Regions from separate parts of the Homo sapiens genome. Here region 2 is linked to region 1. Evidence: fine-mapped expression QTL. A gene starts in region 1. The other region holds a variant in brackets. All regions are shown on one strand. Distances are from middle to middle.

The links. PIP is the estimated chance that this variant, and not a neighbour inherited with it, causes the effect. A credible set is the group of variants that fine-mapping cannot tell apart.
Region 2: its variant is the best candidate, but not a certain one, in a credible set for the expression of PSEN1 in whole blood (INTERVAL, PIP 0.51).

What each region holds. Positions count from the first base shown.
Region 1 is chr14:73,133,882-73,139,412 of GRCh38, reverse strand. PSEN1 (presenilin 1) reads right to left here and starts at 2,906. Exons shown (of 12, transcript NM_000021.4): 1 at 2,830-2,906. RefSeq lists an enhancer at 2,447-2,556 and silencers at 2,727-2,786, 3,047-3,126.
Region 2 is chr14:73,156,456-73,161,455 of GRCh38, reverse strand. The region is part of intron 3 of PSEN1 (presenilin 1); the gene reads right to left. Among named protein-coding and RNA genes, the nearest start is that of PSEN1, 22 kb to the right of the region's middle. The variant G/A (reference allele first, on the strand shown) is at 2,797.

The sequences.
Region 1 (5,531 bases):
ACACAGGGTCTCACCATTTTGGCGAGGCTGGTCTCGAACTCCTGACCTCAGGTGATCTACCTGCCTCGGCCTCCCAAAGTGCTGGCAGATTACAGGTGTGAGCCACTGTGCCCAGCCTTTTTTTAAAAAAAAAACGAAGTCTCACTCTGTTGCCCAGGCTGGAGTGCAGTGGCGCGATCTCGGCTCACTGCAAGCTCCGCCTCCTGGGTTCACGCCATTGTCCTGCCTCAGCCTCCCGAGTAGCTGGGACTACAAGTGCCTGGCACCATGTCTGGCTAATTTTTTGTACTTTTAGTAGAGACGGGGTTTCACCGCGTGAGCCAGGATGGTCTCCATCTCCTGATCTGGTTATCCACCCGCCTCGGCCTCCCAAAGTGCTGGGTTTACAGGCGTGAGCCGCTGCGCCCGGCCACCCAGCCTCTTTTTACATTTTTTTTCTTTTTTTCTTGACAGAGTCTGGCTCTGTCGCCCAGGCTGGAGTGCAGTGGCGCGATCTCCGCTCACTGCAAGCTCCGCCTCCCGGGTTCACGCCATTCTCCTGCCTCAGCCTCCCGAGTAGCTGGGACTACAGGCGCCCGCCATCACGCCCGGCTAATTTTTTTTTTTTTGTATTTTTTAGTAGAGATGGGGTTTCACCGTGTTAGCCAGGATGTCTCGATCTCCTGACCTCATGATCCGCCCGCCACGGCCTCCCAAAGTGCTGGGATTACAGGGGTGAGCCACCGCGCTCGGCCTTTTTTTACCTTTAAAAATGTGTTTATGGCTAGGCACAGTGGCTTGTGCCTGTATCCCACCACTCTGGGAGGCCAAGGCGGGAGGATCACTTGACTCCAGGAGTTCAAGACCAGCCTGGGCAACATAGTGAGGCTCCCATCTCTAAAAAAATAAATAGCCGGCCGGGCAGGGTGGCTCACGCCTGTAATCGCAGCACTCTGGGAGGCCGAGGCGGGCGGATCACGAGGTCAGGAGATCGAGACCATACTGGCTAACACGGTGAAACCCCGTGTCTACTAAAAATACAAAAAAATTAGCCGGGCGTGGTGGCGGACGCCTGTAGTCCCAGCTGCTGGGGAGGATGAGGCAGGAGAATGGCGTGAACCCGGGAGGCGGAGCTTGCAGTGAGCTGAGATCGCGCCACTGCACTCCAGCCTGGGCGACAGAGCCAGACTCCGTCTCAAAAAATAAATAAATAAATAAATAAATAAATAAATAAATAAATAATAGTATGTTTATTAGAAAATTTAAAATAGGGATAATCACCTTGTGGTTCTCCCAGTCTGCATGCTAATAAATTTGTATGCCTTTTCTCCAAAAGAAAAACAAAACAGGTTTTTTTTTTTTTTGAGACAGTCTCACTCTTTTGCCCAGGCTGCAGTGCAGTGGCATAATCTTGGCTTACTGCAACCTCCTTCTCCCGGGTTCAAGTGATTCTCCTGCCTCAGCCTCGCTTGGGAGCAGCTGGGACTACAGGCGCGCGCCCCCACGCCCAGCTAATTTTTTGTAGAGCCGGGGTTTCGCCGTGTTGTCTGGTCTCGAACTCCTCAGCTCAAGGATCCGCCCCGCGGCCTCCCAAAGTGCTGGGATTACAGGCGTGAGCCACCGCCCCGGGCCTCACATTTTATTTCTATTGGCTAGCGCTGCTCTAAATCTTCTGTTCCTTCTGCTACACCAGGCCTAACACTCAAAATCCCTGCCAACCTTTTCCTTCCTGAAGCTTCCCTCCCCTTCCTCAGCTCTGGCGACCCTGCGCTGTGGTGGTTCTCCAACCACACTCATTCTCCTCAGCTGGCTCCTTGCTCTTCTTCCACCCCCTCGTTGCAAGTGTTCCTAAGTGTTTGCCTTGGCCTCCTCTTCCCCTTCCTTAGCTTAGACTTCTCCACTGCTCCAACATCAACTGGAAATCTATGGAATTGATTCCTGTTTTCAGCTCCAGTCCTGTTCACAGGGCATTTTCACCTGCTGGCACTTCCAAAGTGACACTTCCAAACCACTTCCTCGCCCTCCTCTCTAAACCAGGTCTTTCTTCCTAACTTCCTTATTTCTGAGAATGTCTCTGCCATGTTCTAAACTGAAAACCTCCTAGTCAACTTCACACTTTATTCCCTGATCCTCAATTGGTTCCCATGTCCCGTTAGTGTTTCTTGTAAGCCTCTGCCACCACCGCAGATCGAACTCTAATCACATCTCACCTGAATTATGGAAAAGTCACCTCAATTCTCTCACCCATCCCAGCCTCCACTATGGATTAATATGCCTAAAGCAGAGCTGACCACAACGGTGAGAAGAATCTGAGAGGGAAGCAGCAGCAAACACAAGAGTCACTGGACATGCATGCCTCGAGACAGTCCCGACCAAGGAGAAAGCATCAGACCCCGTCTTCCGCCTCGAACAAGAGGCGTGCGGACTTCGCCCAGAATGCTCGTCGCCCCTGGACAAGGACACACCCGGGGCGTGAGGCGCGGAGTTTCACCAGTTGCTCAAGCAGACCCAGCCCAAGACGCTTCCTCTTTCTCCTACTCCACTCCAGTTCAGACGGCTACTAATCCCGGCCCAAGGCACCTGCGCCCTGAGACGTCTTCGAGCAAACAGCATTTCCGGACCAAGGCTCCCCGGAATCTCTCTCCACCCGGCCGCGCCCGAAGCCCGAGAAACGGGCCGCCCCTCCTGGTTTCCCACACGGGGTTCCCCAGCCCCAACCGGCCGCGCCCCGCCCCTCATCTTTTAGGACACCGGCTTCGCGGCCCGGGCGGCCACAAAGGGCCGGGCCCTGCCCGCGGCCGCCCATGTCCGCGGTGCCTTCCTGGCTTGCCCGGACTCCCCATCACGCACATACGCTTCCCCGCCGCCCCGCTGCCGCCGCGGCTCGTAGCTCAGGTTCCTTCCAGACCAGCCGCTGTTTTGTTTCCGATGTGAAACCGCGGACCCCGGAGCTGCCTGTCCCAGGCCCCGCCCGAGAACCCTCACCGTTGTCGTCATTTCCGGCTCTGGCGTCGTTGGCGGCCGGCCCACGGAGGAGGGGAGGAGCCAGGAGGAAGGGGGCGGGGCCTCCGGCCTGGAGAAACGATTGCGGGGAGAACCCAGAGCTCCACCTGGCCTTCCCCACCTGACGGAATCCGCCCAGAGCGCTGGCGTGGGTTGTCGGGGTTCTGAGGCTGCTCGAGCTGAGGACGAAAGCCCCTATATAAATTGGGCCCAGCGTGTGCTTCTCCCGGCATACAAGCGATGGCCATCCTAAATTTAACACCTGTCATTTCTTTAGGGTACCTATTTGCGAACCAGCTGCATCACAATCAAGAGAATGCTGTTAAAATCGCAAATATCTCTGCCCTCTCCCACCACTCAATGAATCAAAACTTCTGGTGGGTGGCGAGAACCTGAGAAACTGCATTTTAAACATCCTCCGCGATTCTTGGACTCCAACTTTGACAACCAGTCTTTCTAGGTGGCAAGCTAGCTGAGAGCAGAAAATGTGTCTGGTTTGCTGGGTCACTTGATTTTTGCATCTGCCTGCTCTTTGTCCAGTTTTGGTAAAGACAGTACCAATGTCTAATTCATTAGACAGCATACCACACTTACACATATATCCAAAAGCTAAAACTAAAAAATGAATACTACCTTATTTAATCAAGGTGAACGGAGAAATGTCAAACATGGGTATTCAAAAAACCGAAAATGAAATTAACGGTACATGGTATCTGGGCAAGTTACATTCTTCTAAAGTTTCTTTAAAAATCCACCCCCAAGCGGCCGGGTGCAGTCGCTCACGCCTGTAATTCCGGCACTTTGGGAGGCCGAAGCAGGCGGATCATGAGGTTGGGAGTTCTAGACCAGCCTAACCAACATGGTGAAACCCCGTCTCTACTAAAAATACAAAAAAATTAGCCGGGTGTGGTGGCGCGCTCCTGTAATCCCAGCTACTCGGGAGGCTGCAGCAGGAGAATCGCTTGAACCCGTGAGCTGAGATCACACCACTGCACTCCAGCCTGGGAGACAGAGCAAGACTCCATCTCAAAAAATAAAAATTAAAATTAAAAAATAAAATCCACCCCAAGCTATCCCTTCACATTCCTATCGCATCAATCTCCAATCCCTCCTCCCAACCCACTGCCAACCTTGTTCAAAAACATGAGATTCTAATACTTTTTACACACAAAAGCTTCATATTTAAGAACAAAAGTAATATTTTCCATTAGCAGAATGAAAGATAAGTTGTGGGAGAAGGTTGAACGAAAAAAGATGTTTTTAAAATTCTTCACCTCCCCCACTTTAACAAGAGTAGGGATTTTAGTTTGTTCATTTACAAGTGCTCATGCTTGTCAGCAGCACATATACATTTTACAAGTGCTGAGAACAGTGCCTGATACATAACAGTGCCTGATACATACAATAGTTCAGTATTGAACAAATACAGGCTAAAACCCATCTATTTGTGAACTACTTCAATCTGATTGCAGTCCGCTAATATTAATAGGATGTCTTAAAATGCTGATGAACTATTCTTAGAAACAATCTACAAAAATTTTGGGCAAAGATATTCATGGAATATTATATAGCAAAAAATTGGGAAACTAAATATGGTACAATAGGCAGGGTGCGGTGGCTCACGCCTGTAATTCCAGCACTTTGGGAGGCCAAGGTGGGCGGCTCATCTGAGGTCAGGAGTTCGAGACCAGCCTGATCAACATGGAGAAACCCCGTCTCTACTAAAAATACAAAAAAAGTTAGCCAGGCGTGGTGGCGCATGCCTGTAATCCCAGCTACTTGGGAGGCTGAGGCAGAATTGCTTGAGCCTGGAAGGCAGAGGTTGCAGTGAACCGAGATTGCGCCATTGCATTCCAGCCTGGGCAACAAGAGCGAAACTATGTCTCAAAAAATAAAAATAAATAAATAAATAAATAAATAAATAAATAAATAAATAAATAAATGTGGTACAATAAATTATGGTCCACCCACCTCACAGAATGTCATGAAAATTTTTCATGAACGCCTGGTCACGGTGGCTCATGCCTGTAATCCCAGCACTTTGGGAGGCCAAGGCAGGAGGATCACTTGAGGTTGGGAGTACAAGACCAGCCTGGACAACATGGTGAAACCCCGTCTCTATTAAAAATACAAAAATTAGCCCGGCATGGTGGTGTGGGCCTGTAATCTCAGCTACTCAGGTGGCTGAGGCTTGAATCTGAGAAGGAAAGTTTGCAGTGAGCCGAGTTTGCACCACTGCACTCCAGCCTGGGAGACACAGTGAGACTCTGTTTTTCCCAAAAAAAAAAAAAAGTCCTGCAACAAAAAGGCAGTAAGATTTTAAAAAAATAGCAAACCCTAACATTGAATAACCAGCCTTCAGATAATTTTCTTCTCATTTTCTTTATGTCCTACTGTTAGGCCTCTGAGCCCAAGCCTTCACGTATACATCCGGATGGCCTGAGGCAACTGAAGGACCACAAAAGAAGTGAAAATGGCCAGTTCCTGCCTTAACTGATGACATTACCTTGTGACATTCCTTCTCCTGGATAATGTCTCTGGAGCTCCCC
Region 2 (5,000 bases), 22 kb before region 1:
GGTTGTCTTACAGATCCCCAAATATCCTGTACAATGAAACTTACAAAATATTGCTAAGAGAAATTAAAGAACAAAAACAAAAATAGACAAATGGGCCTACACCAAATTTCTACACACCACAGGAAGCAGTCATCAGAGTGAAAAGGCAACCTACAGAACTGGAGAAAATATCTGCAAATCAGGCTGGGTGTGGTAGCTCACATCTACAACCCCAGCAGTTTGGGAGGCTAAGGCAGGTGGATTGCTTGAGCCTGGGAGTTCAAGGCCAGCCTGGGCAACATGGTGAAACTCCGTCTCTACAAAAAATACAAAAATTAGGTGGGTATGGTGGCGAGTGCCTATAGTTCCAGCTACTCAGGAGGCTGAGGTGGAAGGACTGCTTGAGCCTGGGAGGCGGAAGTTGCAGTGAGCCCAGATTACATCACTACTTTACTCCAGCCTGGGTGACACAGTAAAACCTTGTATCGAAAAAAAAAAAAAAAAAAAGCAAATCATATATCTGGTAAGAGATTAATATCCAGAATACATTAAAAAGTCCTACAATAGCATGAACCCGGCAGGTGGAGCTTGCAGTGAGCCAAGATCGCGCCACTGCATTCCAGGATGGGCGACAGAGCGAGACTCCATCTCAAAAAAAAAAAAAAAAAAAAAAGTCCTACAATTAAACAATTGGAAAAAAACAAATCATCAGATTTTTTTAGATGGGCAAAGGACTTGAACAGATATTTCTTCAAAGAAGATATACAAATAGCCAACAAGCACATGAAAAGATGCTCTACATCTGTGTAATATGGGGGGAAAAAAGAAAAGATGCTCAACATCACTAATCATTAGAAAAATGCAAAAAAAAACTACACCCGTTAGGATGGCCACTACCAAAAAACAGAAAGTAACAAGCGGTGGTAAAGTTGTGAAGAAATTGGAACCACTATGCATTGTTGGTGGGAATGTAAAATGGTGCAGCCACCATGGAAAACAATATGGAGGTTCCTCAAAAAATTAAACTACCATATGACCCAGCAATCCCATTTATATAAATACCAATGAGTATATATAAAAACGAACTGAATTACAAACAAGACCTCAAACAGATATGTGCATAGCCACTTTCACCATAGCATTATTCAGTATAGCCACGAAGTGGAAGTAACCCAAATGTCTACTCACAGATATGTGGTATATACATAACACAGAATATTATTCAGCCCTTAAAAAGGAAATCTTGTCACATGCTACAATATAGATGAACCTTGAGGACATTATGCTAAGCAAAATAAGCAAGTCACTAAAAGAGAAATAATGTATGATTCCACTTACATGAAATATCTAGCCAGCTGGGCATGATGGCTCACACCCATAATCTCTGTATTTTGGGAGGCCAAAGTGGGAGGATTACTTGAGCCCAGGAGTTTGAGATCAGCCTGGCCAATATGGCGAGAACTCGTCTCTACAAAAAAATTAAAAAATTAGCGAGGCATGATAGAGTGCACCTGTAGTTCCAGTTACTCAGGAGGCTGAGGTGGGAAGACAGCTTGAGCCCAGGAGGTGAAGGCTGCCATGAGCCAAGATCATGCCACTGCACTCTAGCCTGGGCAACGGAGTGAGATCTTGTCATCAAAAAAAAGAAAAAAACTCAAGTAGTCCATGTTATAGAAACAGAAAGCATATTGCCACGGGCTGAGAGAAATGGAAAATGGGGAGTTGTTCAATGGGTATAAAGTTGTCCAATGAGTATAGAGTTTCAGTTTTTCAAATTCAAAAGCCTCCCCATGAGAACAGCCTTTGACCCATGACTGATGGAACAGATTGACACATATATGGACAACTGATTTTTGCAAAGGTACAAAGGCACTTCAGTGGAGAAAATAGTCTTTTTTAAAAAACAGTGCTGAAACAATTGAATATCCATATGCAGAAAAATGAACTTTGATCCATACCTTGGACCACGTATAACAATCAACTTCAAAAGGATCACAGACCTAATGTAAAACATGAAACTATAAAGCTTCCAGAAGAAAATGCAGGAAAAAACTCCTGAGAACTTGAAGTAGGCCAAAGTTTCTTAAGATGTGACACCAAAAACACAATCAATGAAATACAAACGGAATTAGCTGGGTGCAGTGGCACACATCTGTAGTCCTAGCTGTTTGGAAGAATGAGGCAGAAGAATTCTTTGAGCTCAGGAGTTTGAGGCTGCAGTGAGCTATAATCACACCACTATACTCCAGCCTGGGTGACAGGGCAAGACTCTGTCTCTTTAAAAAAAAAAAAAAAAATCTGCCCTTCAAAAAGCACTGTTAATAAAAAGAAAAGCCACAGTCTGGGAGAAAACACTTGCAAATTATATATATTACAGAGGACTTGTATCCAGACTATGTAAATAATTCTTAAAATCCATTAAGAAAGCAATTTTTAAATGGGCAAGAGATTTGAACAGACAAGTCACCAAAGATATCAGGATGACAAGCACATGAAAAGAAACTCAACATCATTACTCAATAGAGAAATGTAAATTAAAACCAAAATGAGATGTAACTATATACCTTTTTATAAGAGCTAAAAAATTTAAAAGACTGACAGTATCAAGTACTGACAGGATGTGGAGGAACTGGAACTCATACTGCTGGTAGAAATGTAAAATTATACAACCAGTTTGGAAAGTTCTTTGGTAGTACCTTAAAAAGTTAAATATAAGGCTGGGCATAGAGGCTCATGCCTATAATCCCAGCACTTTGGGAAGCCAAGGCGGGAGGATCACTTGAGGCCTGGAGTTCAAGATCAGCCTGTGAAACATAG[G/A]AAGACTCCATCTTCTATAAAAAATATAAATAAAAACTGGCCAGGTGTGATGGCTCACGCCTGTAATCCCAACACTTTGGGGGGCCGAGGCAGATCACTTGAGATCAGTAGTTCAAGACCAGCCTGGCCAACATGAAGAAACCTAGCCTCTACTACAAATACAAAAATTAGCTGGGTGTGGTGGCAGGCGCCTGTAATCCCAGCTACTGGGGAGGCTGGGACAGGAGAATCACTTGAACCCAGGAGGCAGAGGTTGCAGTGAGCCAAGATCATGCCACTGCACTCCAGCCTTTGCTCCAGATGGAGCAAAACTCCGTCTTAAAAATAGATAGATAGATAGATAGATAGATAGATAGATAGATAGATAGATAGATAGAAAAAAAAGTTAAATATACACCTACCATATTGGATCATATTCTACTCCTAGGTATTTGCCCAAGATAAATTAAAGCATATGCCCATACAAAGAAAGATCTGTACATGAATATCCGTAACAGCCACTATCTGTAATGCTTCAGAACTGAAAATCCAAATATCTACCAACAAGTAAATAGATCAAAAACTGTGGTATACAACTCAGCAATAAAAAGGAACCACATAACATGGACGAATTTCAAAATAATTATGCTGAAAGAAAGAAGCCAGACAAGAGTCTGTATGTTTTGTTTTTTTTTTAGACAGAGACTCACTCTGTTGCCCAGGCTGGAGTGCAGTGGCACAATCTCAGCTCACTGCAACCTCTGCCTCCTGGGTTCAAGCAATCCTCATGTCTCAGCCTCCTGAGGAGCTGAGATTACAGGTGCACGCCACCACCCCTGGCTAATTTTTGCATTTTTAATAGAGAAGGGGTTTCATGTTGGCCAGGTGGCCTCAAGTCATCGCCCACCTCGACCTCCCAAAGTGCTGGGATTACAGGCATGAGCCACCGTGCCCGGCCTGTATGATACTATTTATATAAAATAGTATCATAATAGTAAATGGCTGCGCGCGGTGACAAAACATGGTTGCCTGGGGATGGGGAGGAATCAGGGAGGAGAAGGAGAGATTACAACAAAACATGAAGAAACTTCTGGAGGTAATGGACATTTTCATTATTTTAACTGTGGTGGTGGTTTCAAGAGTATACATATATATCAAAACATCACACTGTATACTTTAAGTATGTACATTTTACGTCAATTATACCACAATAAAGCTGTTTTTAAAAATGTATCTTTCTTGGGCTGGGCGTGGTGACTCACGCCTGTAATCCCAGCACTTTGGGAGATCGAGGCAGGCGGATCATCTGAAGTCAGAAGTTTGAGCCCAGCCTGGCCAACACGGTGAAACCCCATCTGTACTTAAAAAAAAAAAAGTATACAAAAAAATTAGCTGGGTGTGGTGGTGCGTGCCTGTAATCCCAGCTACTCAGGAGGCTGAGGCAGGAGAATCGCTTGAACCCAGGAGGCAGACGTTGCAGTGAGCCAAGATCATGCCACTGCACTCCAGCCTGGGCAACAAAAGAGTGAAACTCCCTCGCAAAAAAAAAAAAAGGTATCTTTCTCAAGGGAGTGTGTAGGTGCTTTGAAAAGTGTCAAATGAGAGGAAAGTGGTACTAGAATACTGAGGGATTTCCGAAAGGAAAAATCTTGGTAGCTAAATATGAGAATGATGACTTAAGCATGCATGGTATTACCTGTAAGACCATTTTAAAAAAAAGGCCAGGCGTGGTGGCTCATGCCTGTAATCCCAGCACTTTGGGAGTCCCAGGCGGGCGGATCACAAGGTCAGGAGATCGAGATCATCCTGGCTAACACAGTGAAACCCCATCTCTACTAAAATTACAAAAAATTAGCTGGGCATGGTGGCGGACGCCTGTAGTCGCAGCTACTCTGGAGGCTGAGGCAGGAGAATGGCGTGAACCTGGGAGGCGGAGCTTGCAGTGAGCCGAGATCATGCCACTGCACTCCAGCCTGGGTGACAGAGCAAGACTCCATCTCAAAAAAAAAAACAAACAAAACTTTTTATTATGGAAAAAGTTCAAACAAATACTGTCAGAAATGTACAATGAAGCCCATGTGCAATTTATTCAACTTCAATAATTATGAACTCATGCTAATCTTGTTTCATCTACTCCCCCGCTCACTTTGCCACTCCAGTATTATTTTGAGGCAAATCTTAGATATATCATTTCCTTCATAAATATTTTAGTATGTATTTCTAAA